Regions from separate parts of the Homo sapiens genome. Here regions 2, 3, 4, 5 and 6 are each linked to region 1. The links come from fine-mapping of genetic effects on gene expression. A gene starts in region 1. Each other region holds a variant in brackets. All regions are shown on one strand. Distances are between the middles of the regions.

Region 1 (4,000 bases):
AAGGAAGATGAAATGTAAAGGAGCTCAGAAACACAGACACCCTCATCTAAAATGAAACTTTACAGTAACCCTCGGATGCCTGGGCCCACCCCGACACTTCCTGTAACCAGACACTCTCCGTTACAGTTCCTTGCCCTCCAAAAGGGGACTTTTTCATTTCATTGCTCAAACCACAATTAAGTCCTTGAGTCTGAAGTCAATTGCACTATCTACACCACGTAAATGACAGTCATTCAATTCCAAATTTCCTTCATCAAACCAACTGCCAGACCCACTGTCCTGGAGTTCTTCAAACACCTACGAATGTCCAACAGGCACGTTAATACTGAGATACCAGCGTCTCCACCTTCAGAGAACTACCCCCCACCCCACACACACCCCGCCATGCAACCTTCCACTCCATTTCTACTCTCAAACTTTCTAACGCACCATTCTTTCCTTCCTCCGAGAAGAAGGTAACTTACATTTGCAGCATAATTTGGTTCAAAAAGATGCCGTCCACTAAATCCATGTACATAGTCAGGTTGTCCTGGCTGCCGCTTCCAAACGGGCCAAAAGTTTTCACCTGCGGGGAGGGGGACGAGGAGAGAAAGACAGGAAGTCACCCCGTGCGCACAAACGGTCCAAAGCTCTCCCAGGCAGAGACTGGACGGGTCAGTGTGAGCAGAAGGGGGTCACCCACGCCCACACCACCCTTCAGCAGGCACCAAGCCCGGCCTTCTCCTAGGGCCTGTCTCCCCTCCCCGCGCGGGGCAACAGACACGAGACAGGAGGAAAAACTTCCTCGCCACTTTTCTCCCGCGTTCCAGAGCGGAAGAAATAAAAATAAAAAGGACTTTTCAATAAATGTCTCACGTCTCAAATCCATTGTAAATCAGTGCGCCCACCCCAGTCTGTTCGCTTTCCCATTCGGCGCCCCCCATTCCCCACCCGTCACCGCCATCCACCGGCTGGTCTCAGGGATTCAGAAAAACTACATGAGATATTTGGTTGGGAAGAATGGGGTCCTTTTCGGGAGTGGCTAAACCCCAGGGACAGGAGTGACCACTGGGACCCGGTCCGCCCCGAGGCAGCCAGCCTAGAGCCCCAGCGGGAACAGGTGTACCCGCCCGGCTCCTGGCCCGGCCGAAAGCGCGGCGGGGTCCCGCGCCGGACGCACAACGGGGGCGCCGGCTCCAGAGTTACAAAGCTCCGGACTCCAGGACGCGGCCCCAACCCCGGCCGGGAGCCACTTGCTGCGTCCCTCGCGCCCCGGAGCCACCCGGGGCCCCGGCCGTGTCGGGTCTGCGGCGTCCCGTCGCCGGGCTAGAGAGAAGCCGGTGCACCAACAAAGGGGCGGGGAGCCAGGCGCACTCACCCAGGTCACCAGCGGGCTCTGCAGGAAGAGCTCCAGGAGCTCCGAGACTGTCACGTCCATGCTGAGGCTGCGCCCGCCGGCTCCGCGCCCCCCGCCCCGCGTCCCCGTTCCCCCGCGCCGCGGCACAAAACGGCTCCGCAGCGAGCAGCGGGCGCGGGGCTGCGGCGGCTCGCGCCCGGGAGACAAAGGCGGGGCGCGCGAGCCCACGTTCCGCGGCTTCGGCGGCCCCGCGCCCCGCCCGGGTCTGGGGGAAGGGGAGGGCCAGCCGCTCGGGGAGGAACAATACGGGCGGCCCCGCCCCTCGGCGGCCCTGGGCGACCGGCGCGCCGCCTCGCGGTGCCAGCCCGGGAGCCCGGGAGCCCGGGCGCGGGACCAGGCTACGCGGGGCGCTGGGAGGGGACTGGTGGCCCGAGGCGGGTGGGTCGCGGGGCCCGGCTCCCCGCCCGTGGGACCGCGCGCCCTCGCCGAGCGCAGCCTCCCCGCGTGTGGGGCCCCAGCACGTGGCGCATCCCTGCGCGCGTGCGCGTGCAGCCGGGGCCCGAGCGCCACGTGCGAGCTGGGGTGCGCGGGCACTGGTGCGTGCCGGGAGCGGGGACGCCCTGCCCTCCGAGGTTGCTCTGCCCTCCGAGGTCGCCCGCAGCTGCCGCCCGCTCTGGGCTTGGGGACCTCGGCCCTGCGCCTTTCCGCACTCCTGGCAGGTGCAGCCCCAGGTACAGTCAAGAGGCCCCGCAAACCCCCGCTCCTCACGCTTGTGCGCGGCGCGATAAACGCGCCCCGACCCTGGGGCTGGGCTGGAGGGCAAAGAAGAAACTTTATGTTGAGTTTAGGCCTTAGGGGCGCGGCCCCTCGCGCCCTACCGTGCCCCACCGTGCCATGTTCCGGGCTGCCTGCCTTCTAAAAGTTCCTGCAGGAAGCAGGTGATGTGGCCTCCCCGACCCGGGCCCGCCCCCACCACTTTGCCGGAGGCGAGCTAAATTCCAGCCGGGGTTCCTAGCAGCAGCTTAGTGGCAGGCGACAGGAAAAAGGGCAAAGGCCCCAACTGGCTGGAAGGCAAGCCCGGGGGCAGGACCTCCTTGCGGGACGGCACGAGGCAGGAGCCGGCTCCAGGCTGGTCTCGGCCTGGTAATAATTTCACACCACCAGCCGGTCATTGTTCAAAGCACTGTAGACCATTTTACTAATTTAACCCTAACGATCGCCGCATTTCGCAGCTGGGCCAACTGGTACAGGGTTGACCCGAAGGGCCCTGCGTGGCGCTTGGCAAGTATACAGCAGGCACTAAATGGCTGCCGACAGGCTCGGTGGTAATTTTGAAAGTTGGCTCTGTGCAGCGTTGGGGCTGCGGCATCTGCTGGTGGCGAGTGGTATTACAGCCCAGCGCTGGCGGACCCCGTTGGGCTGGGGAGGGTTGTGAGATTATGGCCTGAGAGCCAAGGGGGTCGGTTAGGGGTCCCTAGAGACTGTGGAAGGCGGGGTAGCATAAAACACAATGGGGGACTGCGGAGGAACTAAAATTTCGAGACTACATGGTTTTGTTGTGCACCAGAAGTTCATTAGAGAAGTTCCTTAATTGCTTCTCCGCCCGCCGCGATGGCACTCGACCCCGCGGATTAATTTAACAACTCTGATGGTTGCTCTGTGAAATTTAAAGAACAGTGGTTTAAGCAAAGACCACAAGAAAGAAGAATTGAGATCAAAGAGGAGTGTGTGCCATCGCTGTGGAGGAGTTTCAGTTGTGAATCATGAAATGTCCTGTAAACCATTTCAAGGAGTTTGATTTTTATACCAAAAACAATGGGAAGACACTACAGGTTTTTGGAGCAGCAGCTCAGACGTGTCGAAAAAGATGTTTTGATCCCTAAAATAATGAGAGAAAAGGCCAGAGAGAGGTCTTCTGACAAGTTCAAGATTTTACCAAATGTTGCAAGAACTCTGGAATCCTTATGGTAGTAAAATGCTGGAAAGAAAATTCTGCATTGAAAGAATGTCTTAACAGCTCACTATAATGACCCAGCCTTTTATGAATAATGCAAAGTGGAAAACCTGAAGGAAAAGGAAGAATTCAGAAAAACTGGAATTTCTACAAAGAAAAGTCTACAGAAGCTGCCCACAAGTGTGTAGACAAATATTCAGATGACATTCAGGATCTCTAATACTCATGGAAGTCGTTTATAGAATAAACCTTAAATAATGGACTCAAGAATGTGTGTTTGCTAATTATGTGTGTATCCTAATTATGGAAATATTAATTTTATCTGAAATAAAAATCTTTTTTTCTTTTCTCTTTTTTTTTTTTTTTTTTTTTTTTGAGACAACAGAGTCTCACTCTGTTGCCCAGGCTGGAGTGCAGTGGCGTGCTCTCTGCTCACTGCAACTCCGCCTCCCGGGTTCGCGCCATTCTCCTGCCTCAGCCTCCAGAGTAGTTGGGACTGCAGGCGCCCACCACCACGCCCGGCTAATTTTTTGTATTTTTTACTAGAGACGGGGTTTCACCGTGTTAGCCAGGATGGTCTCTATCTCCTGACCTCGTGATCCGCCTGCCTCGGCCTCCCAAAGTGCTGGGATTACAGGCGTGAGCCACCGCGCCCGGCTAAAAATCTTTTATTTAAAAAAGTTCCTTAATTGCTCATAATGTAAGTTAGT
Region 2 (4,968 bases), 55 kb after region 1:
CACTCTCCGGAGGATATCCTTATTAATAATGTAGTTCTTTATGTGGTAGGTATGGTGCTCCACACAAAATGTTAACAATTCCAATACAAGTGCCAATAGTTGGGCAGTCTGAAAATCATCTAAAAGAAACAAAACACAACTAATTATATTTAATGACTAACATTTTTCCTTCTAAAATGTAAGAACTCAAATTCTAATCAAGTAAAATCTCTTCTATTAACCTAAATATATTAACTTTAGGGAGGAGGAAATTAGCATTTACTGAACGCCTAACATGTGCCAGGAATGGTGCTTTACTTTTTTTTATTTAATTTTAACAACCCTATAAGAAACTGTTTCACATTATGAGCCTATTAACTAACTAGACCCAAGTTGGAAAAGTTAGTAAGGCAGAGTTATGATACAAATCTAGAGTATCTGCCTTATTCCAAAATTCAAGGACCCTCTACCAGGTACCTTAGCATGTTCTCCAACAGATATAGCATATGAGGTTTTGCCAGACACCGTGTCATCTTTGGTGCAATTACTCTCTCTCCCTGTTCCCTTGATTCCAGTGTGTTTTGTGCCTCCTTTACTACTTGTAACGAGTCTATACTGAATTATAATCATTGACTTATCTTTACTCCTCACTAGGCAGCAAGCCTCTGAAAGGCTTTTTTTCATTCCCCCACGTTTAGATTATAACACAGTCCTTCACAAAATCACAATGAGTTCTCATCTTAATAAAGGTTGGAGGAATAGAACATGTGGTTTGGAAAGAAGCCTCAAGCTTTACCTAATATGAATAAAGCAGGTAAGAAAAATGGACATTCACATTTCATGGACTTGATTCTGGAGTTACACAAAAAGTAAATTTAACTTGTGTTTTATGTGAGTGCTATAATTATGCTATATTAAGAATTCAAGGCTGGGCGTGGTGGCTCACACCTATAATCCCAGCACTTTGGGAGGCCAAGGTGGGCAGATCACTTGAGGCCAGGAGTTTGAGACCAGCCCGGCCAACATGGTGAAAACCCTGCCTCTACTAAAAATATAAAAATTAGCCAGGCATGGTGGCAGGTGCCTGTAATCCCAGTTACTCAGAAGGCTGGGGCAGGAGAATTGCTCAAACCTGGGAGGCAGAGGTTGCAGTGAGCCGAGATCCCGCCACCACACTCCAGCCTGGGCAACAGAGCAAGATTCTGTCTCCAAAAAAAAAAAAAAAAAAAAAAATTCCAATGACAAAATAATGTATTTACTCCTAAAGCTTAAATAAGCAATTTTTGAATGTAGACCTAAAACTACCTCCTAAATTAAACACACGCACACGCACGCTAAAGCTCTAATGAATATAATACAAAAATAACAAACCTTAACATATCTTCAATATAAATAAAAGTAGCTTAATATTGTGCAAAAATCCTAGCTCTGTCTATACATCTGGAGTACAAATAATTTAAAATGAATTTTTTCATAGCTACTGCCTTCTATTTATATTTCACCAGTGTAGATGCAAACTGAATACAAATATTGTTCAACAAAAAATTATCTTATTTCTTTTACATGTTTCTGTTATCTGATTACAGTACTTTCAGGAAAATTGTTTTTTTTTTTTTTTTTTTGAGTTGAAGTCTCACTCTGTCGCCCAGGCTGGATGGAGTGCAGTGGGGCGACCTCGGCTCACTGCAAGCTCCGCCTCCTGGGTTCACGCCATTCTCCTGCCTCAGCCTCCCCAGTAGCTGGGACCACAAGGCACCTGCCACCACGCCCAGCTAAATTTTTTTTGTATTTTTTTAGTAGAGATGGGGTTTCACCGTGTTAGCCAGGATGGTCTCGATCTCCTGACCTCATGATCCGCTTGCCTTGGCCTCCCAAAGTGCTGGGATTACAGGCCTTTTAGGGACATTTTTGTCATGAACCTTTCTTTTCAAAATACATCATTAATTCTCCAGGTTGCTTTTGATAAAAACAACCAACCAACCAACCAACCAACCAAATTATTAAGACCTCTATGTTAACCTGATGGTTTGAACTTTTAAAGACTACTACTTTTTAAAAGGTGTGTCCTCCCAGCCTCTACCTCCCACTAACTGCCTCCTAAAAAGACTGACTTAACACCAACTTTGAATTCAGCATTCAAGAACAGAGAACTTAACTACCAACCTGAATTATCTTACCTTTACTAGGTTTGTCTTCTGTTGTATTTGCTAGTAAAGGAGCAGTGAGAACATGCATACAGTGCTTGTAGAAGAAACCCAGAAATTCAGTCTTTTCTGTTTTCTAAGGAAACAAGAACAATTCCATGAACTTTAACCACACTGGTTCCTACCAGCAATACACAATATACTAGCTATGAAAAAGAGGGGAAATGCTCATGGCTTACATTGGCAGTGGCTAGCATGTTCTCTGGGTCAACTAAAGTTCGAAGCAGGCCCATAAGCTGGACTGCTCCTCCAAGTTCAGGATCTGTATCACAAATCATATGTTCTATAATGAGGTTGATGAGCAAAATATCCTGGAGAGAAAAATAGACATACTCAGGATCACTTATTATGAGAGAACGGAAAAAGCAAAAACTAAGACACATACCACAGCATTATACCTAGGCTCTAGCTGTTTTGTTAACTGCAAAGTGAAATGTTTAACTCAGTTATCTGACAGGACATATGACAGTGTTTCATTCCCTAAAGTGTGGTACAGGGACATAG[C/A]CCTAAATAGAAATTTCTTGTCTATTATCTTTAAATTCCTCTGAATAAAGCAAAAGCAAAGTTTTAGTTTGGTGATAATATATCTTTACAACTTTCTAATAATGTAATCTACCTTTTGAAGAAAGCCAGTGGGTTTTATGACCATAGCTTTAAGAGTAAGAATATTTAGGTAGGATTTAGAACATCATAATACTTTCGTTGCTTTTATTTTTATTTTATTTTTTTGAGACGGAGTTTGCCTCTTGTTGCCCAGGCTGGAGTGCAATGGCACGATCTCGTCTTACTAACCTCCACCTCCCGGGTTCAAGCGATTCTCCTGCCTCAGCCTCCCTAGTAGCTGGGATTACAGGCATGCACCACCATGCCCGGCTAATTTTGTATTTTTAGTAGAGACGGGGTTTCTCCATGATCGTCAGGCTAGTCTTGAACTCCCTACCTCAGGTGATCCGCCTGCCTCAGCCTCCCAAAGTGCTGGGATTACAGGCGTGAGCCACCGTGCCTGGTCTATTGCTTTTATTATTATAGAGTCCTTCTATTTATGGCCAGTGATGTATGTTCTCCATTTGTAAAAGTGATATAAAATTTCCTTTTAAAATAAATTTAGGAAAAAATTATCTGAATGTCTGAAATTGGAGAAAATGAGACTATGGTATTTAGAGAGTGCAGAGAACAAATGGATTATACACATTCTAAATATCAAAGAAAAGAGATGGCTGGTTTTCCTGAGGTCCTATTATGACTGGTATTCCTCACCTAAGTAGTAAATAAGATTGAGAGGGATTCAGTGAGAAAATCCCTGCTCTTGCCTATGTGTATGCAAAGGCAGGATGGACAAGGGATAGAGAAAATGCAGACAGTAGATGGAAATGATGATTAAGAAGAGTGGGAATCAAGAGTCCTAGTGACTGAAATGTTATTCTGTTGCAAAACAGGAAAAAAAAAGAGTCCTACTGTGTGTATTTTGAGGTATATCAATACATGTTCATATGTTCAGCTCATGGGTTAATGGGACCAACAATAGCCTTTATTTTCAATAATACAGATACTTTGGTTCTCAAAGAATTTTTTTTTTTTTTTGAGATGGGGTCTGGCTTCGTCACCCAGACTGGAGTGCAGTGGAGCAATCATAGCTCACTGCAGAGTCAAACTCCTGGTCTTAAGAGACTCTTCCTTCTCATCCTCCTGAGTATCTGGGACTATGGGTGCATGCCACCATATCTAAGTTTTAAAAATTAATTTTGTACTAAAGGAGGGTCTTGCTATGTTGCTGAGGCCGATGTTAATATTTTATAAAAGAAAAACATGACACAACAGTTCAAACTGGTGCTTTTTTGCACCTATCCTGCACTATAAAAATAAAAACTTAAACATAGCAGTTACATGGCATTCCATTTCCTTTTGACATCACAATACATTAAATAGGATCTTTTCAAAAAGTAAGACAGTCTATTTTCCTATTTCGTAAAAATACCACAGGCTGGAATTCTAAACAGATTTTTTTTTTTTCCTTAGGGGATCTTTATTCCCCTCCTCCCTTAAGAAGGACCTGAGAGCAGGTCCTTCTTACTCATTCTTACGTAAAAAGTTGCTTCCAAATTGTTATGGGGGAAGCAGGAAAAAATCAGAATCATTGGTTCAATTATTTTAAAATAAAGGAGAGCACACACATTTAGTGCTCTCACATGTCACGCACTATGTGATCCAGGCGCACCCTTCACATTACCAGGATATATTCTCTACTACTTTAAAATCTGGTATATCTCAGATGCTAACGTGAGTGTTTGTGAACAACGTAACAGCTTGTTCTCTATGGCTAGGCAGTAAAGAAACAGCACCCTTCATATTTTAAGGGACTGTGCTACATTTCTTCATTCTTGGCGATTTTGAGAATCTACCCTAAAGTCAATGTTTTCCTAGGTAACTTACTCTTAATTCCCCAGATACAAGAATTGATTGACTAAATGATTTAAAAAACACAATATAGCAAGTTGACTTCAGAATTAAAACAAAACAAAACAAAAAAAAACTGACATGAATATTTTAAAAGGCAATTTAAATGAACATAAATAGTTGCTGTAGGACAAATTGATAAACTGAGACAGGAACCAATTTAGGGGAACAATAAGCTGTCTGATATTATGGCTACACTTTTCCCAAACAGCAACAATTAAATCTTAAAAGTGAATAATAAAAACAGTTATAGCTTCCTATGTATAAATACTTACTATTAGTACAAATAATATTTACCTTGCTGGTTATTTTTTGCTCTGTTAACTTCTTA
Region 3 (4,968 bases), 94 kb before region 1:
GGCTGCTATCCTAACTGTCCAATCAAGGATTTTAGAGGCTAACAGAGATGACACACAGGTGACATTTTCCATACCCCCCAGAGCATAATGGACATCTCGGCTGCTCAGCAGGCAGGGGCACGTAACTGACCACTCCCGTTGGCCATGGGTGGTAGAAAGCTACACTGGAACATGTGTCGGGCACTTGTCAGCCTGGATGAGATGCTATGCAGAGATTTCTTTCTGTGACTTCACAATTATGTTGAAGAAAACTGTGATAGTGTATGCAAATTACTTTTAAAATTCTAAATGAGATGAAAAATAAGCTAAAAATAGTAAAAGGCAGACTATCTACTCTGCTTTTAAACAGCTCAGGTGCAAATGGAGAAGGGAAGAGTCTTGAGTCAGGAATGGGAGTTCCTGGCCCCCTCCTGCCACAAGCAGGTGCATGATTTTAGGTAAGTCATGGGGTTGTTTTGGGGAGGGGAAAAAAAAAGGTATGCAAAAGCCCTCTTAAGAAAGGAGCCCGGTTCTTCCCCCCTTCATTTACCCAACCCAGTGCCACGTCCTCATCTCTTGGGGCCTTTCCACACTGTTGCTAATACAGCGATTCCTCCCCCTACCTCTTCACCCCAGGGGCTGTGGGTACAGGGGGGTGATGGCTTTCACAGCAAACACATAAATCTGGAAATGTGTGTGGTTCAGATTCCCCGGGTGATCATAAAGACTGAACAGCATCTCGTTTCCCTCTGAGTCTTCATCCTCTACCAAGGATAACGACATGGACCACCCAACAGGCCAGAACGCCCTAAAGACCCAAACCAACAGCAGGCGAGAAGTGGAGGGGATGGTGTGTACCTGGCCCCAGCCCAGCACTGACACACACATAAACACACACACACTCCACATACAAGGACGCTTGGAGGGCTCCATCCCAAATAAGCTGTAAATGAAACTAACCTAACTTCAACACCAAGCCTCAAATAAGACTCCATTATTTCAAAACCTGTGGTCATCTGGACAGTGTCTCTGCAGAATTCATGGGGGTGAACCCATTTTTAAAATTACAGAAAAATATATTTAAAAAGTACCATTTTAGCCATTTTAAAGTGTTTGGATCTGTGGCATTAGGTACAAGCACACTTTTCTGCAACCATCACCACCATCCCTTTTCACCTTCCCAAACTGACCACAGAGATTAATTTTTAAGGTTCTGTGAGTTAAACAATGGAATCGATGTTTCATTTCCTCTTCCATTAAAGTCAGTGCCTTGAAGACTATTAAAACGACACAATGGTTTACTACTAAAACGCCAGTGTTTCTCTTTTTTTTTTTTTTTTTTTGAGACAGAATCTCACTCTCTCACCCAGGCTGGAGTGCAGTGGTGTGATCTTGGCTCGCTGCAACCTCCACCTCTCAGGTTCAAGCGATTCTCCGGCCTCAGCCTCCTGAGTAGCTGGGATTACAGGTGTGCACCACCACGCCTGACTAATTTTTGTACTTTTAGTAGAGGCGGGGTTTCTCCATGTTGGCCAGGCTGGTCTTGAACTCCTGACCTCAAGTGATCTGCCCGCCTTAATCTCCCAAAGTGCTGGGAATACAGGCATGAGCCACTTTGCCCGGCCCAGTGTTTCTTTACTAGTGCAAATCTCGTCAGCACCCCCCAGCAACCAGAGTAACTGGGTATGTCTTAGTAAGACAGACAAGAAGAGCTGCCCTCTACAGAACACACCAAGGGCCAGAGCCGGGGTTCCTGCTTCACTGTTTTCTCTCACTCATCCTCACAGTCATCTTGTGAGGCAGGTTCATTACCCCTATTTTGCAGGTAAGGAAACTAAAGTTTTAAGAGGTTAAGTACTTGCCCTAGGTCACCCAGCTAACCAGCAGAGAAGCCAAGGCTTTATGCCAGGTCTTTCTGGCTCTCGAAGCCACTGCCCCATACACTCAGGCTTTGCTTGCACGATGCCATCATTCTAGCAAACACTAGAATGATGCCAGCTCCTAGCTAGGCACTAGGAGTTGACAACACTAAGAATAAATCACGGTATTAACTTTAAAGAGCTCACACATTATAGAAAATGGTCTAAATCGGTGAGGCCTTCTCACCAGCCACCATGGTCTCTAACAAATATTTAGTTGATGAGAGACCATCCTAGCTGCTTGTACCACCTCTCTGCTCCACCAGGGGGCGCCCCCAACTTGGACTTCCAGAGGCAAGGGATTTGGGGGAACCCCCTTGTGCAGCCCTCAGGCCCCAGAACTACGCACAGATATCAAAGCACAGACAGCTAACTTCTCACACAGATTCACAGTGAAACTGGTTTTAGGTTCGGAACTGATAGGAACCCCCAAATGCAAGAAATATTCACCTGTTTCCAATAACCTTTCCAGAATGCTTAGATGTCTATCAGAATTTTTTAAAGCCACCCACTAAACAAGCCAAAAGCCCCATCACACCCTGGAAAGTCTAAGTAACTATGAACTTGCACGATCACGTGCACGGGAACGGTGAGCGTGTGCTATTTTCAAACACAG[G/C]AACTGGCTCATTGTTTGCCGGGGCTGAGGCTTCCTGCGCAGGGGGCTGAGTGCGGCCCCGCCCACGCTTCCCATGACCGACACCTCCTCTCGGGGCGCGGGGCAGTGGGCAGCAGAGCAAGCCCAGGAGGGAAGAGGGAAAGGGAGAGGCCTGGCAGAGGCGCTAAGAACCTGGGTCTCCGGGGCAGCAGCCACTCAGCACCCTCCCCACCCAGGAGAGAGAAAACAGGCTGCCTCCATCTTGCCCAATTATGCAAATGAATGGAGGAAATGACGCCCTGGGTACATTTATAGCAGGGATTCGTGGCCACTGGTGATGGCTCCTGCCATCCAGGGCTTTCAGCCATCCACAGATGGCCTCAGAGAGCCTCTGGGTGTCAGTGCACTATAATCTGGAAGCTCCCGGGAATGTCCATATGGGAATTCGGAAAACTGGCAACACTTAATTTGTGTTTTGCGTCCTGACATCAAGGCTGCCAGACCCCTCGTGTCTTCCCTGGGGAGAACTGTAATGAAACAGTTCCAAGTGGAGCTTGAAGGAAATCATGTTTGCCTGGGATGAATGGATGGGCTAACATGGCAGATTCAGAGCCCAGGACTCAGCTCCCTGGAGGCAGCGGCGGCCACGGCCAGGCTGGCTCCCCGGCACCAGGCGCTACCTACCGTCTGACAAGTCTGCGTTCTTGGACAGCTGCTCCAGCTCCCAGCCAAGGTGGGCAGATTCGTTCATGCTCTGCTTCTGTGCAATCTCAAGGACCATGTTTTCTTCCAGCAGCTCCTCAATTCGTTTCTTATCTGTGTCCCGGTCCTGGGGCAAGCAAGAAGAGGCAAGAAGTGAGGCTGCACAGCTGGAGATCCCCCTGGACAAGCCTCAGCCCCTGTATAGCTACCGTCATGTGCTGTGGATGAAGATGTACTGGCTCACTTCCAAATAAACAGAGCTGCACAGAAACATCCCAACACAGGGCCCTGCTATGAGAGGGAAAGCCACTCAAAGGTACCCTGACCTGGCTACCTAGGTTATGAAGACAGACCCGGCCGGGGTCCCTAACTGAATGCTGTCTGAACAAAGTGACATACTGCACAGGGCTTTAAAGCAAGTGTGCAGTGATGGGCAGCTCTGTGGCTCTAGCGAAGCCCTAACAGGCCTCTAAAGCTGTTAACAGGCTAACAAATCACAGCTCACCCCACACCATCAACACTGGCAAAGACCCTTCTTCCAAGACACACACACACACTCATTCCTACAGAAAAGCAATACAGAAGTCAAGTGCTCTGTTTGTGGGTGTTAAGTGGCACCCGCTCAAGCCTGCTGATTTTAGCAAGCTACTCCCCGCAGTCAACAAGTCATTCGTGGTAGCAGTGGCAGCAGCAACGGCAGTAGCAGCAACAAACCCAGTAGCTAAACTATCAGAGAAGGGCACGCCATAAACCTGAACCTGCCCCAATCGGTTTTCTTTTCTTTCTTTCTTTTTTTCTGAGACAAGGTCTTGCTCTATCACCCAGGCTGGAATGCAATGGTGTGATCACGGCTCACTGCAGCCTCAACCTCCCAGGCTCAAGCAACCCTCCTGCCTCAGTCTCTCCCAAGTAGATGGAACTACAGGCTCACACCACCATGCCCAATTATTTAGTTTTCGTAGAGATGGGGCCTCGCTAGGTTGCCAGGGTTAGAACTCCTGCGCTCAAGGGATCCTCCCACCTTAGCCTCCCAAAGTGCTGGGATTACAGGCATGAGCCACTGTGCCCGAGCCCAATCTGTTTTCAATGTAGTAACAACACAGCCTGCAGTACCAATTCCAGGTCGTGAAGCTTGGATTTCAGCTGCAGGTTCTCCTTTTCCAGCTCATGGACTTTATCGCCCCGGGCCCGAGCAGCAGTCAGCTGTTCCTCCAGCATGGCCTTGGTTTCAATTAAAATGATATTATCTTCTCTCAGCTCCTGGTTAGCAAAAACATACATGAGAACCATCAGATAAAGGCACCTGGGTCATTAGGATGGAATTCTAAAACCAAAACTCTTTCAGGCATCTGGACCCAAGCAAACAATCTAGAGGGAAGTCCGAGGCAGGAAGTTTTTCCTCTACTTTTTTTTTTATCATCTTCACCTTTTTTTTGAGACGGAATGTCACTCTGTCGCCCAGGCTGGGGTGCAGTGGCGCGATCTCAGCTCACTGCAACCTCCACCTCCTAGGTTCAGCAATTCTCCTGCCTTAGCCTCCCAAGTAGCTGCAATTACAGGCGCCTGCTATCGCGCCCGGCTAATTTTTGTATCTTTAGTAGAGACGAGGTTTCATCATGTTATCCAGGCTGGTCTCGAATTCCTGACCTCAGGTGATCCACCTGCCTCGGCCTCCTAAAGTTCTGGGATTACGGGCATGAGCCACTGTGCCCAGCCCATCTTCACCCTTTTTAATCGGGCAAGGACAATGGACTTTCTCTGCTATAAGAAAAA
Region 4 (4,968 bases), 62 kb before region 1:
GGTCACAGCATTTTGTGCGCACAGAACCTTGTCTCTTCAGGGTGCTTCCTCTGCTGCTGGAATGCGCACCCTCTGTAACCATCATAAGAGAGAGAAAACATAGGACAGAGGGCCAGGCCGCTGAACGGCAATTAATGAAACCCCAAGGCTCTTCTCAAAGGTTCCAGGGGCATTCAGACAGGACCCTGTAGGGTGTGCATATGCAGTCGCAGCCCCTCCAGGGCTTCCAGGAATCCTGCTTGGCATTTAGAATGTAAGAAACATCAGGGCAGACCAGTGACAGTAACCCTCTTGCTTGGAACCAGTGGCTTACTGTCCACAAAAGTAACCATCTGTGCAATTTATGGTGTGAAATCTGTCTTGCGCCTATGGGGACCTCCATGCTGTGTGCCTCTGAATGAGCTCCTCCGCTCTCTGGGCTGGGCTTCTACACCTAAATGGCTCGTTCCCTTCCATTCTAAATGGCTTCGGTGGGATCGGCCATGTGTAAGTCTGGAAACCACTACTATACTTGGATACAAACCCTGGAAGAAAAAACAATGCTTTCTTCCAGTGCAACTGTCCTGTGATTCATCGCAGAAAGTAATTTGCTAACACCCTGGCTTCCCGTCAGACAAATCTAGTCTTTTCTTGTGCGTGTGGCACAGTGACAGGCCTGGCTGCTGAGCAAGATGCTGAGAAGCCAGAGCTGGAGGGACCCCGGAGCTGGTCTAGCTCCATCCAGCATCCTCCCTCACAGCACAGACGTGAGCTCTTGCTTCTCACAGGCTTCTTGTAGAAAACACTCACCAGTAACCGCGAAAGATATTTAATAGCTGTGCAGCTGGCAAGATGGTGAAGGCGGTTTTCAGGGAGTCATCTCAGGCCTAGGGGAGACAGACACGTGGTACTGGGCAGAGAATGAATCTCACTTGACCCTGACCACTGACAACTGGCCTTCTTATCTATGAGAGCAAGTGGGTAACACCTGTCAGGGGCCCCAGCTTGACGGGAGAGCAAAGTGGAGAGAGGAAGAGAGAAAGGTGGGCCCCCTGCATGGATGCTGTATTTACTGAGCACCTACTACATGCCAGACACTGATCTAGGCATTCGAACGCACTGACAACAACAACAAAAAACCCCAGGATTCCTGCTGTCATGAGAGCGTGCACCCTAACGGGGGAAAAGTATGCAATGCCACAGAGGGGAAAAAATAAGTGAACAGTATAGGCTATTCACAGGTGCCAAAAGATATGGAGAAGGGAAAGCAGAGCAGAACAAAGAAGACAGGGCGTGTGGCAGGAGAGACAGGTGGGGCCACACTGAACAGGGGCTCACAGGAGGTGTTTACACAGCTCGCTGGCAGAGGGACCGGCAGGTGCACAGGCCCTAGTGCCCGGAGCGGGCTGCAAAATGACAGTCGGCTGACCTGAGGAGTGGGCTGCTCGGGCTGCCATGCTGGGAGCAGACTGCAGGGGGCAGAGGTGAGGACACTGCCCTGGGGAGCAGCCAGGCGGAAGCAGGGGAGCTGGTGGTGGTGAGGAGGGCTGCAGAGGAGAGCTCGGCTTCTGGGGGTGCACTGAGGGTAGACCCGGGACACCAGGCGACAGCGCAGACACGGGTAAGAGGGAAGGATAAGGATGGCTGAGGGGAAACAAGGCGAAGGACGCTCTACGGCACTCAGGCCCCAGAAGCCTGCACACCGCCTCACTATGGGGGCAGGCTCTTATAAGAGCCGTCATATAAAAGTGAGGGCGGGGTTCAAGCAGGGTCCAGCCAGAGCCCAGGCCGTGCTCGGAGAAGCAGAGACTACAGCAGTGAGGCACCAGACAGACCCTCCCCTCCCCGGGGGCGTGGGTGCAGCTGAGAGTGAGCTGCAAAACCACAGCACCATCAGAGCAGAAATCCAGAGACGGTCCCAGGGCAGACACAGCGTAAGGGAGTGAGGAGTTTGGGCCGGGACGGGCAGATGCTGAGGAGAGATTTCAAAAGCAATTTTCAGTATACGAAGTACTGTTTCATAGTTACTGCACTGTCCTTGACTTCCACCCAGGATAGGAAGAGAGTGAACACCCTTCTGTCTGATGGGTGTGGGGGGTTAAGTGAGACATACAGAAAAACTGTAAGTTGTGGCACCTCCCTTTTTTAGGTCAGAGAAAGGGGACAAATGCGTAGACTCTCAGGGTCTTTTAGTATCATTGTGTTGGGGAACAGTGGGTGGACCAGATGCTCTGTTGGGATCTGGAATCTGGGAGCTTGTGATGCTATGTGCCCAAAACAGAAAAGTTACCCCAAACTATAAAACGTTATAAATAACAGTACAGTGTTAGCATCCATCAAAAAGAGTACAAAGCAAGCCCCTCACACACGACGGGGATAGATTTAGTCAAAAAGCACACACATGCCCCACCCCGGGCAA[C/T]CATACAAATTAAAAAAACACCAACTTTGTTCTTTGTTTAAAAAGAAACGAAAAGAGCTTCACACATCTATTTTTACAATTTAAAACTGAAAATGCTATTTCATAAATACATCCCTCTGCCCCTAGCACTGGTGTCTGCATCTTCCTGCTGGTGGATGTCCGCTGCCAGCCTCCTCTGCTCTCAGAGCACCATGGGACCCCTGTCAAACCTACTCATCCGTGCACCCAGCTCCCCGTCCCCCAGCCCTGACACGTTGCCCTCTGTGTGCAGCCTGCCGAGGCCACCGTCTAGCATGTCAGTCAGCGAGGCCCGGGGCCCTCTGAGCCCTCGGTGATGGGTAGAGTTATTCCCGTCCTTCACTTTCCCAGCCCTCACTGTCCAGTTTCTCCAACTCCACCTTCAGAGCTGGGACCAGCTGATCCATGTGGGCTGATTATATACCACGGGGGCCCCAGGGACATTCAATTCACCTGTCAACAGTCTAAAACCAGCTTCCTCTTAACATTCTAAAAACTGAATTGTGGTTAGGGTTTTACAGCTTTGTATATTTATGAAAAAAAATCACTGAATTATACACTTACAATGGGTGTGTTTTATAGCATGCAAATGATACCTCAATAAAGCTGTTAAAAAAAAAAATCAGCATCCACATCTTTACAGATGTTTCTGTTTGGCAGCAGACCTGAGATGCGGACCTATGTTCTCTGCCCATGGACAATCTCTGTGGTGTTGGGAGGTGCCTGATGGTAGTGGGGCAGAGAGGGCAGGCTTCCAGATGGTAGTGGAAGGGGAGACACCTGCAGGGATGAGAAGAGGGGGAGCACCAGCAGGAAGGTGGGCAAGCTATGCAGGTAACATTGGAGCTAAAGGGAGGGGTGAGAAAAGGCGGGGAGAAGGATGCGTTTAATATTAGGTTCAACCATATGCCATTTTTATAGGTCAAAAAAGACTGGATATTGGCAATTGCCTACAGTTAAACCTAACCCATAGATGTCCATGTGTGACAGATGAAGAGGCTCAGGTTTGGGGGCGGACAGAGCAGGTTTCCAATCAGCCCCTCTGCTTACAGGCCAACTGGTCAAGGACATGGCACCCAAGCCCTCGGAGCCTCAGTTCTCTCCCTATAAACGGAAATGGGCGCAGCCACACCACAGAAGCACGTTTTCATTCCTTTAAATACAAATTTTAATTAACTAATTAAAGATGGAGTCTTGCCTGTCGTCCAGGCTGGAGTGCAGTGGCACAATCACAGCTTACTGCAGCCTCGACCTCCTGGGCTTAAGCAATCCTTCTGCCTCAGCCTCCTAAAGTAGCTAGGACTATGAGTGCGTGTCACCATGCCCGGCTAACTTTTTTATTTTTTGTAGAACTAGTGTCTCGCCAGCACGCTCGGTCTTTCATTGCATTTGTAACGCACGTTCAGTGCCAAGCACAGGGTGGGCGTGCTAAGGAGTGGCTGTCCCCTCCTTTTGCTCCTCCACTGTCTCCAGGGCAGACGGAGTGGCTGTCCCCTCCTTTTGCTCCTCCACTGTCTCCAGGGCAGACAGAACAACAGGACTAAGCTACCGCCAACCTCTACAGGCATCACTCTCATCTCCTCCCGTAACCAGCCCCAAATAAACTAGGAAGGTGGCAGAGTTCTGCTCAGCAAAACAGGCTCCACTTCCCTGAAGTTACCAGAAATCATGAGAGTCCCCCGGTCCCTGGAGCCCAGGGCTGTGGCCAGCATGGACTGCATCTGGCGTCCCCGCCCTTCTCTGGGGGAGCCATGAAATAAAGCCGGAACACACATGGCCCCATGGCAGAGCTGGCAGGGGAGCAGAACCAAAGGCCCCCTGCTACTAACACGGGAAGTGGGGGAGGGCGCTTGCTGCCGGGGGCCACCAGGAGGACCAGGGGTGGCCTCTGCAGGGTCTCCATGTAAGGCGGTGAGTGCCCACAGGCCAGAGCACTGAAGACTATCAGGGGTCCAGGGATGCTCTTCCTTCTGGCTCATGCAAAGGCGGACACCTCAGCCAGCTGGAGCCCAGAAAGAGCGCCCCCACGGAACAAGGAAGCCGCTGCTGATGTTCTCAGGGCGGTGGCACTAAAAGAAGACTGCTCTCCTACCAGCTTTGTCCTCGGCTGGTTACTCAGTGAACTCTTCTAAAGTCTCAAGGCCACTAGCTACTGTCATACGGACAGGAGAGGGGATGGCCAGGCTGCAGTGAGACCAGGCTGAGGAGACGCCAACAGAGGAAGCCCGAGTCCCTTTTGGAAATGTCTCTAATGTTTAGGATTCACGGTTTATTACCATCCTACAGGTGTGGCTTTTCCTGTGTTCCTTGACCCCTCACCTACTCCAGGAGGCCCCAGACCTAAGGTTTCAAAATGATGACAAGGTCTCCATCAGAACAAGGGAAGTCCTAGCCAGCGAGTAACTCTGTCCCTGGGGCCTGCGACTTCTGTCCACCAGCTATGGGTGCAGGTAAACACACACAGGTGAAAGGGACGCAAGGCATTACTCCATTTAATGCACCAAGGAAGTTATCTGACAGGCAGAGATTAAGTTCTGACTTTCTGTAAGATG
Region 5 (4,105 bases), 25 kb before region 1:
GTTTTAAGGTCTTGGGCTCTGGGACAAGGTTCCCAGGGTCCTTGGTTTCTCTGAACTTCTGTCTCCTCATCTTTGAGATGAGAATAAATGCCACCTAGTGAAGGTGAAGACTGAAATGGGAAGGAAGTAAGGATTCTTAGCAGCAGTCCTAACACCCACTGCCTTCAACACCAAGCGCTTAACACAATGGCAGCCACACACCAGAATGTTCTAGAAGCCTGAGAAGCTTGCCCATTCACTGGCACCTGTGTGTTGAGCCTCATGCTGGACCCAGGGAATGCAGAACACAGTTCTTTTAGTTTACCATCATCCTCACAGTACAAACTCTCTTCCTGCTAAAAACAAAACAAAACAAAAAAAAAAACCCACTGGGTGCCCGTTTTTAATTGTGGTAAAATATGCATAACCTAAAAAAAAGCTTAAAATGGTTAAGTTTTAAGTGTACAGTTCAGTGGCATTAAATACATTTATGCTGTTGTGCAACCATCCCCACCATCCATTTCTAGAACTCTTTTCATCTTGCAGAACTGAAATTCTGTACCCCTTACACAAATAACTCTCTGTGTTTCTTGCTTTTTAAAAGTCAGAAGTAGGCCGGGCACAGTGACTCACACCTGTAATCCCAGCACTTTGGGAGGCCGAGGCGGGCAGATCACTCGAGGTCAGGAGTTTGAGACCAGCCTGGCCAACATGGTGAAACCCCGTCTCTACCAAAAATACAAAAATTATCCAGGCGTGGTGGCGTGTGCCTGTAATCCCAGCTACTCGGGAGGCTGAGGCAGGAGAATCGCTTGATCCCAGGGGGCTGAGGCTGCAGTGAGCTGAGATCATGCCACTGTACTCCAGCCTGGGTGACAGAGCAAGACTCCGTCTCAAAAAGAAAAAGAAAAAAGAGGCAGCTTCCTAAAAGACCAGAAGTTACATGTTCCTGAGTGTACTATATTCCTTTTTCTTGTTTTTAAAATTTTTACTCTACTCTGGAGCTGAAAGTCCGCTTTCCAGCTACTTTCTTTTTTTTTGGAGACGGAGTCTTGCTCTGTCGCCCAGGCTGGAGTGCAGTGACGCAATCCAGCTACTTTCTAAACTCTTTCCAACTAAATCTGAACATACACTTGGATCTCAAAGTTGCCTCATGAGTTCACTCCCTGGCTCCATTTGGCTGTTCCTGACTCTCTAGTGCCTCTGGGGCCTCCAGGGTAGCAGCTCCCATGGCCACCATGACAGCTGCTCCCACTGACCCTGTTCCCACGAACACGGCCACCTCCAGAGGTTCCAGCTCTCCCTTCCTGAACCTGTACCTAGGAGGAGTTCAAACAGACCCAGAACTTAACATGCTCTATAAACTCTGGCTTCAGATCACCCTTTCCTACATGCCACCCCCAACCCTGCCAAAACAAAACAAAAGCAACAACAAAAATCCCTATCCAGGAAACCTAGAGGTGGGAGTCGGTGGACATGGAGCTCCGAGGGGCTGGCTTCAACCACCCAGAGCAGGGAAGGACACCTTAATTAGGGCTAGAGGAGGAGAACCTTTTCAAGGGGAAAGAGAAACGAGAGAGGCTTCAGCTGGTCACATTTCCAATTCCTTTCTGTTCAAAAGGAATGAGATCAAAAGGCTTGTCAAAGTGGCTTTGCCTTTAGAAATCAATTTACCTCATCTTTTAAACCCAGAGCCGATAATAACCCAGGGTTTCCATACCAGCGATGCATAAAAGAAGGAACATTTTAAAGCCCAGCCCAGCCCGAGGACCTGGCCCTTTGGAGTTCTTGAAGGCAGCACCAGGGACCCCAGCAAGGGCGGCCCCTCACTGCAACCCCTCACTGAGCCCCCTCACTCTCACCACGCCCCTCACTCTCACCGCGCCCCTCACTCTCACTGCACCCCTCACTCTCACTGAGCCCCCTCACTGCACTTCCTGGGAGAGGCAGAGGCTGCCGGAGTCCCCGCCCTGAGTGAGTCTGCAATGTAGGGTGGGACACAGAGAAAACAAGTCAGGGCCAGGGGTGTGATGAC[G/A]GCGATAATGATGTTAAATTCCAGAGAGTCCTCAAGGCCTCACATAGCGAAAAAGGAAAGGTGCTGGGGAAGGAGAAACTGCAAGGACAGGACGTGTGAGGCAGCGGGAGAGGGAGAGACAGTACCGGAGTCCGCTCCCGGAAACGGCCCCTGGGCACTGGGCTGGGCATTTCCCAGGCACCAATCGCTCACTGGCTCTCTCAGAATCACTGCAACCCAGGGAGGGGAGTGCAGTCATCACCCCCATCTGACAAAAGAGGAACAGGCTAGGAGGGGTTGGGCCGCTTGCCCCAGGTCACACCAGTGTCAGGGCAGCCCTGGAGGACAAGAGGAGCTGCCCCGGGAGAGGCTGAGCTGGGAGATGACAGGTCCAGGTGCCAGCTATTCTGTCCGCAAGTAGGATGGGAGCCCCCCCACCCCCTAAACCCCCAGCCCTGCAGGCAGAGGGGCAGATGAGGCAGAGGCAACCTGAGCGAATTCTACCTCCCGAAGGAAGAAACAAGGGCAAGGTAGGAGAAGGGGTACAGACAGAAGCGCCCTCCCAGACGGCCCACACCTCAGCCCCGATCTGGCTTCCTCTGAAGGTCTGGACTACCTGTTTTGGATTAACTGCCCCAGGTGGTTATCAAAATAGCCCAGAGTTCTCAGAAACCACCAACGCTTCCTTCTTCTGGCATCTAAGCTTGGGATACTCGCCTCTGCAACTTAGTCCATTTCCACCTGAAATATTCAACTTCCCAGCCTGTCCAACATGGTGAAACCCCATCTCTACTAAAAAATACCAAATTAGCCGGGCATGGTGGCCCATGCCTGTAATCCCAGTTACTCAGGAGGCTGAGGCAGGAGAATTGCTTGAACCTGGGAGACAGAGGTTGCAGTGAGCCGAGATCGCACCACTGCACTCCAGCCTGGGCGACAGAGCGAGACTCCGTCTCAAAAAAAAGAAATCAACTTCATGAGCTCTACTCCGTAAAATCTGAATGCCACAAATTCTCACCCTAAAAACAGGGTGCTAGAAGACCAATTGAGCACAAAAAGTGCCAGCTGCTCCGGAGTTTCTGTCCTTTAAGTAGCCACAATTCCACACTTTAAAGGCACGTAAATCTGACTTGCTGGGCAGAAGGTGAGCCTGTCTGGTTACTAAGGTTTGGAAAGGAGGCAAAAATTTTAGTCTTAAAATTTTAAAGTCATTCAGCCTAAACCTTAGAATGCTCAGGGGAGCCAAGCTGGCTAGACAAAGTTGAAAACAATCAATTTAATTTCCACCCCCCAGGGACTGAGCCTCCCAGTACCTGACATATGGCATTTCCATCAACAAAGCAAACACCACATGAAAAGCCTACAGGTCTGCGTGAAAACAGTAGGGGAGCCCTAAGCTCCAGCCCAGCCCCCTCACTGCATTGCACCTCCATACCGGTTTACCCCTGTTTACCCTCTAAACAGTCAGGGTCTGGGTCCCTGCCATGTGTCAGGGACACAGAGGAACAAGGCAGGCCCCATCCTCTAATTATTCAACAGTCTAGAAAGGGCAGCAGGTCGGGGGCACTTTGCAGGGTCATTTTAACCTAGAGACAGGATTCCCGGCCCAGGCCTGGTGTGACACCGTGCTCCCTGATTGTAATGACTTATTCTCTGAATTATTTACTCCACTGAATGGTGGCCTCCGTTGTTATGTATCTTGTCATTAACACATGCTGACTGACGGCAGACACATTTCCATGCTGGTGTGACAGACAAACAGAAAGATTCAGTGCCTGCTTTTAAGGAATTCTATTGCTGGTGAGGGATAAAATCATGAGGCTTCCTTTGATGAGATAATATGTGTAAGTCACTCAGCTTAAAATAAAACGATCATACAGGAGAAAAACGTGCAGGGCTAGAGACAGGCACACGTGCACACTCGCAAGATTAATCCAAATGAATCAGAGCGCATTACTCCGGGAGGGGTCCTTGGATAATCCGCTCAGTAACAAATGAACACAGAGTGGCCAGGGGACGGGCCTTGGGTGGGGGGCCTGCCTGCCACCCCTCTGCCAGACGGGTGGGCATCCTCCCCTCCCACCCACGTGTCCCCTGAGTACAAGGCCTTTG
Region 6 (4,968 bases), 44 kb before region 1:
GTCCCATGGGAGGAGCCATGTGCTGTCCAGGCCCAGCCAACCTCACCCGCCGGTGGCAGGAGTACAGAGGCCGGCGGTGGCAGGAGTACAGCACAGACCAAGACCACAGTCTTGGTCCCGAGGAGCCTGTGGAGTCACAGACTGGGACCAAGACTGCCTCCCACACCCTCCAGTCAGGGGTGGCTCTAGCTGATTTCCTGGGCAGGCACCTATCTGTCCTGGGCACACCCTCCCTAGCTCAGCAGAAGCAAGGCCTTCCTCGTCCCAGCAAGTAGCTGGGCTGGGGGAACGTGGCGCCTGCCCACACAGTGTCCCATGTCCCACTCCACCGCTCACCCACCCAGGCCCACAGGCACCTATGCCAGGGCAGGGCTGGGGCCACGCCACACCCTGGCAGCCCTCACCCGGTGGCCTGACAATGCCGCTTCACTCCCAGGCACAAGTCGGAGCAGGATGGTGGAGGGCACCTAGGAGCCTCCAGCGGTAGATGGCAGCCCAGACCACCCCAGCCTGCTGGGACCTGTGAGGGTGGGAAAGGCAGGCAGTGGGGGCAGCCAGCCCCCAACCTCACGCCCCAACCTGAGCCCAGGCCTCAGGGTACGAGCACCACAGCACAAGGGGTACCAGCACTCCCGAGTGACCAGGCCTCCTTGTCCAGTGTCCCAGGGCAGGCATCTGGAGGGCAGGGAGAGCTCCTTGAGGAAGGGCAGCCATTCCCTCTCTCATTTATGCCACACTTCCCGGGCACCTGCTGGGTGTCTGATGGCATGCCAGTTGGGAGGTGGAGGGTATGAAGCCAAGACTGCTACCCTCAAAGCCAGGAAACAAAGACAAGGAGGACAAAGCCTGTGGGATGGGGGACAGTGAGGGGCCCAGGGTGTTTGCTATAGGGCCAGGCCCTGTCCTGGGGAGCTCACAGCCTGATCCCACCAGCAAATCCCACCAGCAAGTCTGGCACCCTAACAGAGGGATGGCAGGCACCTGAGCTGGGGGCACTGGGAGCAGAGGAGAGCGGGGAATCCAGAAAAGCTCCAAGAAGGAGGTGGCCGGAAGCTGAAATGGGAAAGAACAAGGAGCAGGTGACATCCAGGTAGATGGCAGTGGTGCGGGGGGGGGCGGGCGGGGGGGGGAGGCGTGTGTTAGTGCAGGGAGGGCTAGGAATAAAGGAAAAGGAAGACACAGAAGGTGCCCCCATCTTGTGTCTCTGGCTACAGTCCCACGATGAAGGACAACTGAGAACCAGATGTGCACAGAACCACCGTTCAGGGAGTCTGGACCCAGCCCTGTCTGCACGTTATCTAAACGGTGACAGCAGCAGCTTTGGAGTCCCCTCTGCCGGCTCCACCACCACGTTGCTGCTGGGCCTCGGCATCAAGCCCTGCCAGGTGGCCAGAAAGGCAGGTGGCCGGGCAGGCAGGCATCACTTAACCTAGCGACAATCAAGCCTGTGCCTGGCATGAAGTCAGGCCCCCGGAGGTGCTGGCTGAACCTGAGGCCTTTCCTAGCCGTCAGGTTTTGCTGGGCACTGTGCTCTCAACATGCTCCGGGGCGACACACCATCCTCCCTCCTGCTTCAACACAGGGCAGCTCTGCAGGGGGCAAACACAGGAAGCCACAGTCACCACAGTGAGCCCATAAAGGAAGACAGTCCCAGCTACCTGTGTGTGCGAGGAGTGGGGTCCATTCTAGAGATCCCCAGGAATGCACAAACCGTCCCCAGCCCCTGGGCTCAGGACCAAGGAGGAAGAACTGAGCTGGGACATCTGCTGGGGCCACCTTCTCTCTTCTCCCTCTGGCCTCAGGAGGGCCAAGAAAAACACACACGATACCAGTGCCCTATGGTGGTCTGGACTCAAGAGAGCTGGCTTGGACGCTATGCTGAGAACACTAGGGGCAGGTCTGGCCCTGGGAGCAAGTGTGCCACGGTTCATCAGTGACATCTGCCTGGGGCCAAGCAGAACTTGTGCTGGTCAAATAGCAAAGGATGAAGAGAAGGAAAAATTCTACACACATGGGAACCATGAGTCTCCAGCATGGATAAATAAGACTGTAATTACCCCTCCTTAGCCCCCACTCGCTCCTCCAAAAAAGCTTTCTGGAGGAAACAGACAGCAGAGCAGACATTTCATGCAAACTGGTCTCTTTTCATTACAGGAGTTTGCAGCAAAAGATCAGACTTCATCTAGAGAGCAAGAAACTCTCTATTCTATCACCAAGAATGTATTCTATAGCAGGAAACTGGGGGAGGGCA[T/C]ATCGGGACACAGTTGAAAAGCCGGGGAGGAGGAAGGTTCAGAAGTGACAAGTTTCTAATGACTAATATCTCGGCAGGAAGTGAAAATCTCAAAAGATGTTATCAACTTTGCAGCAGCTGTCCAAGTTGGGGGGTGGGCAGGGGTTGGAGGTGACCTGGCAGCCCAGCCGGTCCCCTGCCCACCCGCACCTGACAAAATCCTCTCTGTCCAGCCACACTTGCCTCCAATGCCTTCCTCAAACCCCTCCGCCGGCAATGATCACTTCCTCAGCAATCAGTGCCCCCAGGCCCCTCTCTCGTGTCCCTGCCTGAGTCCCACACAGGGAACTGAGATCCTCAGGGTCCCCAGGGCAGATGCTGGAACATGCTCACCTCTGAATCCCCCCAGGGCTCTGCACAGTGTGGCCCACAGCAGATGCCTGCCAGCTGCTGGCTAAATGGAACTGGCTGCGGGGAGGAAGGCTCTGGTGAGAACAGAGGCTTTTTGGGACCTCCAACTAAACGCACCCTCCCCCATCTACAGTGTAAAGAACACTTTATTTCGAACAGCAATAAATCAGCATGCTGCATAAACCAGGAGCTTGGCTAGACACACTGTGTCTATTACCTCTCATCCTAACTCTTGCAGGCAGTAGCAGGGTTAAGTCCACCAGGTATCTGCTAATGCAAGGTCCATTTGATCAATAGGTATTTTTCATTGCTTGGAATATTGGAGTAAATGAGAGGGCTAAAGAGGTAAATATATGTCACATGTGTGTGTTAAGAAGCAAAATAAAGGAACATAGGAGGAAGTGACAGAAAACATAGCTCTTACAGACAGGTGGTCAAAGAGGGCCCTCGATGAATCGTCAGCTGAACAAAATGCGAGTGTAGGGAGGGTGTGAGCCAGGTGGACGGGTGGAACTGGAGAATCCCAGGCAGAGGGAACAGCCAGGGGCAAGGGGTTACAGCCAGAACAGGCCGTGCAGTCCTGCTGAGCACAGAGCCTGGGGTGGCCCAACCGACCTTTGAGGCCATTCCAACAGTCTGGCAGCATCTGCAGTGGTCTCTGCAGTCAGGCTCATTCCGAAGCCTCAGGAGGCACAAGGAAGTCTCACACAAGTAACTCACTGTGATCCCAGGGGTAGTTTAAGCTTGGGTTCCAGGCACAGATGACTGGTAGTGGTTACCTAGAGTTCTGTGTTGAGAAGGATTCTGAGGCCAGATCTGGGCTCAGAGACAAAGAGGGCCAAGATCGGTCAATGGTGCCTGTCAGAGCCAGGAATGAAGATGTGGTGACACTCCCTTACGGAGCCCAATGGGACAGGCACTGTAACACGTATGTGGTATACAACATGCCGAGGGGATGTGGGCAAAACACCAGGAACTCTCTTCACTAGTTACGAAGCTACAGACTGAGTTTCCTCTGCTAAACCAGCCTTACTCTTCGAGTCTCCTTCTTGGGCTGTGGGCTCCTGAGGGTGGTGATCTGGGCGGTCTCGCTCCCCAGGGCTCTCCCAGGGCCTGGCACACAGCAGGGCTCAGCCATCATTTGCCAAATGAGCTAATGAAGGGCCACAGGCCCCAGGGTTAGCATGCGCGCGTGTCTGTGTGTGTGTGTGCGCGCGCGCATGTGGGAGAGAGAGAGACAGGCTGTGTGAACAGCCTGAATCTAAAGGACTGGGACAGAAACAATGCCCTTCAATTAGACCAACTGGACCCCTGCTGTGTGAGGCTCCGACCTGAGGACTCCAAAAAAAATCAAATCAGATGAAGCTTATTCTTCCTTTTTTCCTTTAAGTAGGGAAGCTTTTCTTCAGATGTGGGTGAGGTGGGGAAGAGGGGGGTGGGCAGCGGAATCAAAGAGCGTTTTCGGGGAAGGAGGGAAGGGCAGGCGCACAGACCCGCCCCGGCACCTGCTCACGAGGCAGACCAGCTGCTCTGGCTTCCCCGCAGGGCCGGCCGAGAGCCCACACTTCAGGCAAATAAAAGCACCCTCACCAGCTGTTCCCATGGCCAAGCCAAGCAGGATGGCAGTCTGTGCCAGCCCTGCCTCGGCAGCAAGTGGACTCTTCCAGCCCAAGCCACGAGATGAGGGGAGACTCAACCCTGTCCGTGCCCGGAGCACCTTCCCTGTGCGAGGCTCCTCAGGGCGAGTGGGGGGCAAATGTCTCCTTCTGATCTGACCCTTTCCAGCAGGCATGCATCTTCTTGCGTTCAATGGGGCAGGTGCCGTAACTGTGCCCATTTTACAGAGGAATAAACTGAGATACAGACAGTAAGGATGTGCCCTGGGGTCACATGACTACAAGTGGCGAGGCTGGGGCTGGAAACGTAGACCTTCCAGCCCCGCGAGTTCACAGGAGAAGAGGCTTGAACCCAGTCAGCCAACAGCCAGCAGCCCAAATGTATCTGCGGAGGAGACCTGAGGAGCTGGCAGGCGCAGAGGACCCTTTAGGCTGTGGCAGCCAGGAAAGGCCACACTTGTCACTCCCGCTGCTGCCCCCCAGGACAGGGTGACGATCATAGGTCAGGCTTCTCTCCTGTGAGCTCAGAGCCTCCTGAAACACCCAGGTGCTCGTCGCCGGGCATATGCATGTCTGGCTGGTGGTGGGGGCGCTGTCTGCTCCTGCTCCCTGACCTTGGTCGCCATCTTCTGCGCTTTGCACACTCATGACTGCCTCGATTTTATATCCACTCATGTGTTCATTCACTCACCCAACAAGCGTTTAGTGAGC

Alleles and levels. Alleles are on the strand shown, and positions count from the first base shown. SD is a standard deviation of normalised expression in the study named. Not every link is listed here.
In carriers of allele A in region 2, the expression in unexposed skin of the gene that starts at base 1,547 in region 1 tends to be lower than with C alone (moderate effect, 0.46 SD a copy in GTEx).

Evidence for each region. PIP is the estimated chance that this variant, and not a neighbour inherited with it, causes the effect.
Region 2: its variant is fine-mapped to the expression of CCDC88C in unexposed skin (GTEx, PIP 0.97). The same link has a PIP of 0.9 or more in whole blood.
Region 3: its variant is fine-mapped to the expression of CCDC88C in whole blood (TOPMed, PIP above 0.99). The same link has a PIP of 0.9 or more in atrial appendage, subcutaneous fat, thyroid, tibial artery, tibial nerve and visceral fat.
Region 4: its variant is fine-mapped to the expression of CCDC88C in whole blood (TOPMed, PIP above 0.99).
Region 5: its variant is fine-mapped to the expression of CCDC88C in esophagus muscle (GTEx, PIP 0.95).
Region 6: its variant is fine-mapped to the expression of CCDC88C in whole blood (TOPMed, PIP above 0.99).

Annotation. Positions count from the first base shown.
Region 1 is chr14:91,416,274-91,420,273 of GRCh38, forward strand. It overlaps CCDC88C (coiled-coil domain containing 88C), which reads right to left and starts at 1,547. Exons shown (of 30, transcript NM_001080414.4): 1 at 1,358-1,547; 2 at 465-565. The coding sequence starts at 1,417. It overlaps CCDC88C-DT (CCDC88C divergent transcript), which reads left to right and starts at 1,973. Exons shown (of 3, transcript NR_184261.1): 1 at 1,973-2,067. It also overlaps the pseudogene LOC112268126. RefSeq lists enhancers at 1-122, 133-422, 2,028-2,672, 2,913-2,962 and a silencer at 1,043-1,962.
Region 2 is chr14:91,470,877-91,475,844 of GRCh38, forward strand. It overlaps PPP4R3A (protein phosphatase 4 regulatory subunit 3A), which reads right to left. Exons shown (of 15, transcript NM_001366432.2): 7 at 4,935-4,968; 8 at 2,363-2,494; 9 at 2,157-2,259; 10 at 1-119. Among named protein-coding and RNA genes, the nearest start is that of PPP4R3A, 37 kb to the right of the region's middle. The variant C/A (reference allele first, on the strand shown) is at 2,688.
Region 3 is chr14:91,321,602-91,326,569 of GRCh38, forward strand. CCDC88C (coiled-coil domain containing 88C) reads right to left here. Exons shown (of 30, transcript NM_001080414.4): 11 at 4,309-4,455; 12 at 3,178-3,322. Among named protein-coding and RNA genes, the nearest start is that of GPR68, 79 kb to the left of the region's middle. The variant G/C (reference allele first, on the strand shown) is at 2,515.
Region 4 is chr14:91,353,672-91,358,639 of GRCh38, forward strand. All of the region lies in intron 4 of CCDC88C (coiled-coil domain containing 88C), which reads right to left. Among named protein-coding and RNA genes, the nearest start is that of CCDC88C, 62 kb to the right of the region's middle. RefSeq lists an enhancer at 1,227-1,737. The variant C/T (reference allele first, on the strand shown) is at 2,399.
Region 5 is chr14:91,390,905-91,395,009 of GRCh38, forward strand. All of the region lies in intron 3 of CCDC88C (coiled-coil domain containing 88C), which reads right to left. The region is part of intron 1 of LOC105370624 (a long non-coding RNA gene); the gene reads right to left. Among named protein-coding and RNA genes, the nearest start is that of CCDC88C, 25 kb to the right of the region's middle. The variant G/A (reference allele first, on the strand shown) is at 2,015.
Region 6 is chr14:91,371,422-91,376,389 of GRCh38, forward strand. All of the region lies in intron 3 of CCDC88C (coiled-coil domain containing 88C), which reads right to left. LOC107984673 (a long non-coding RNA gene) reads left to right here. Exons shown (of 2, transcript XR_001750858.2): 2 at 1,215-2,830. Among named protein-coding and RNA genes, the nearest start is that of CCDC88C, 44 kb to the right of the region's middle. RefSeq lists enhancers at 332-944, 2,548-2,617, 4,080-4,752. The variant T/C (reference allele first, on the strand shown) is at 2,252.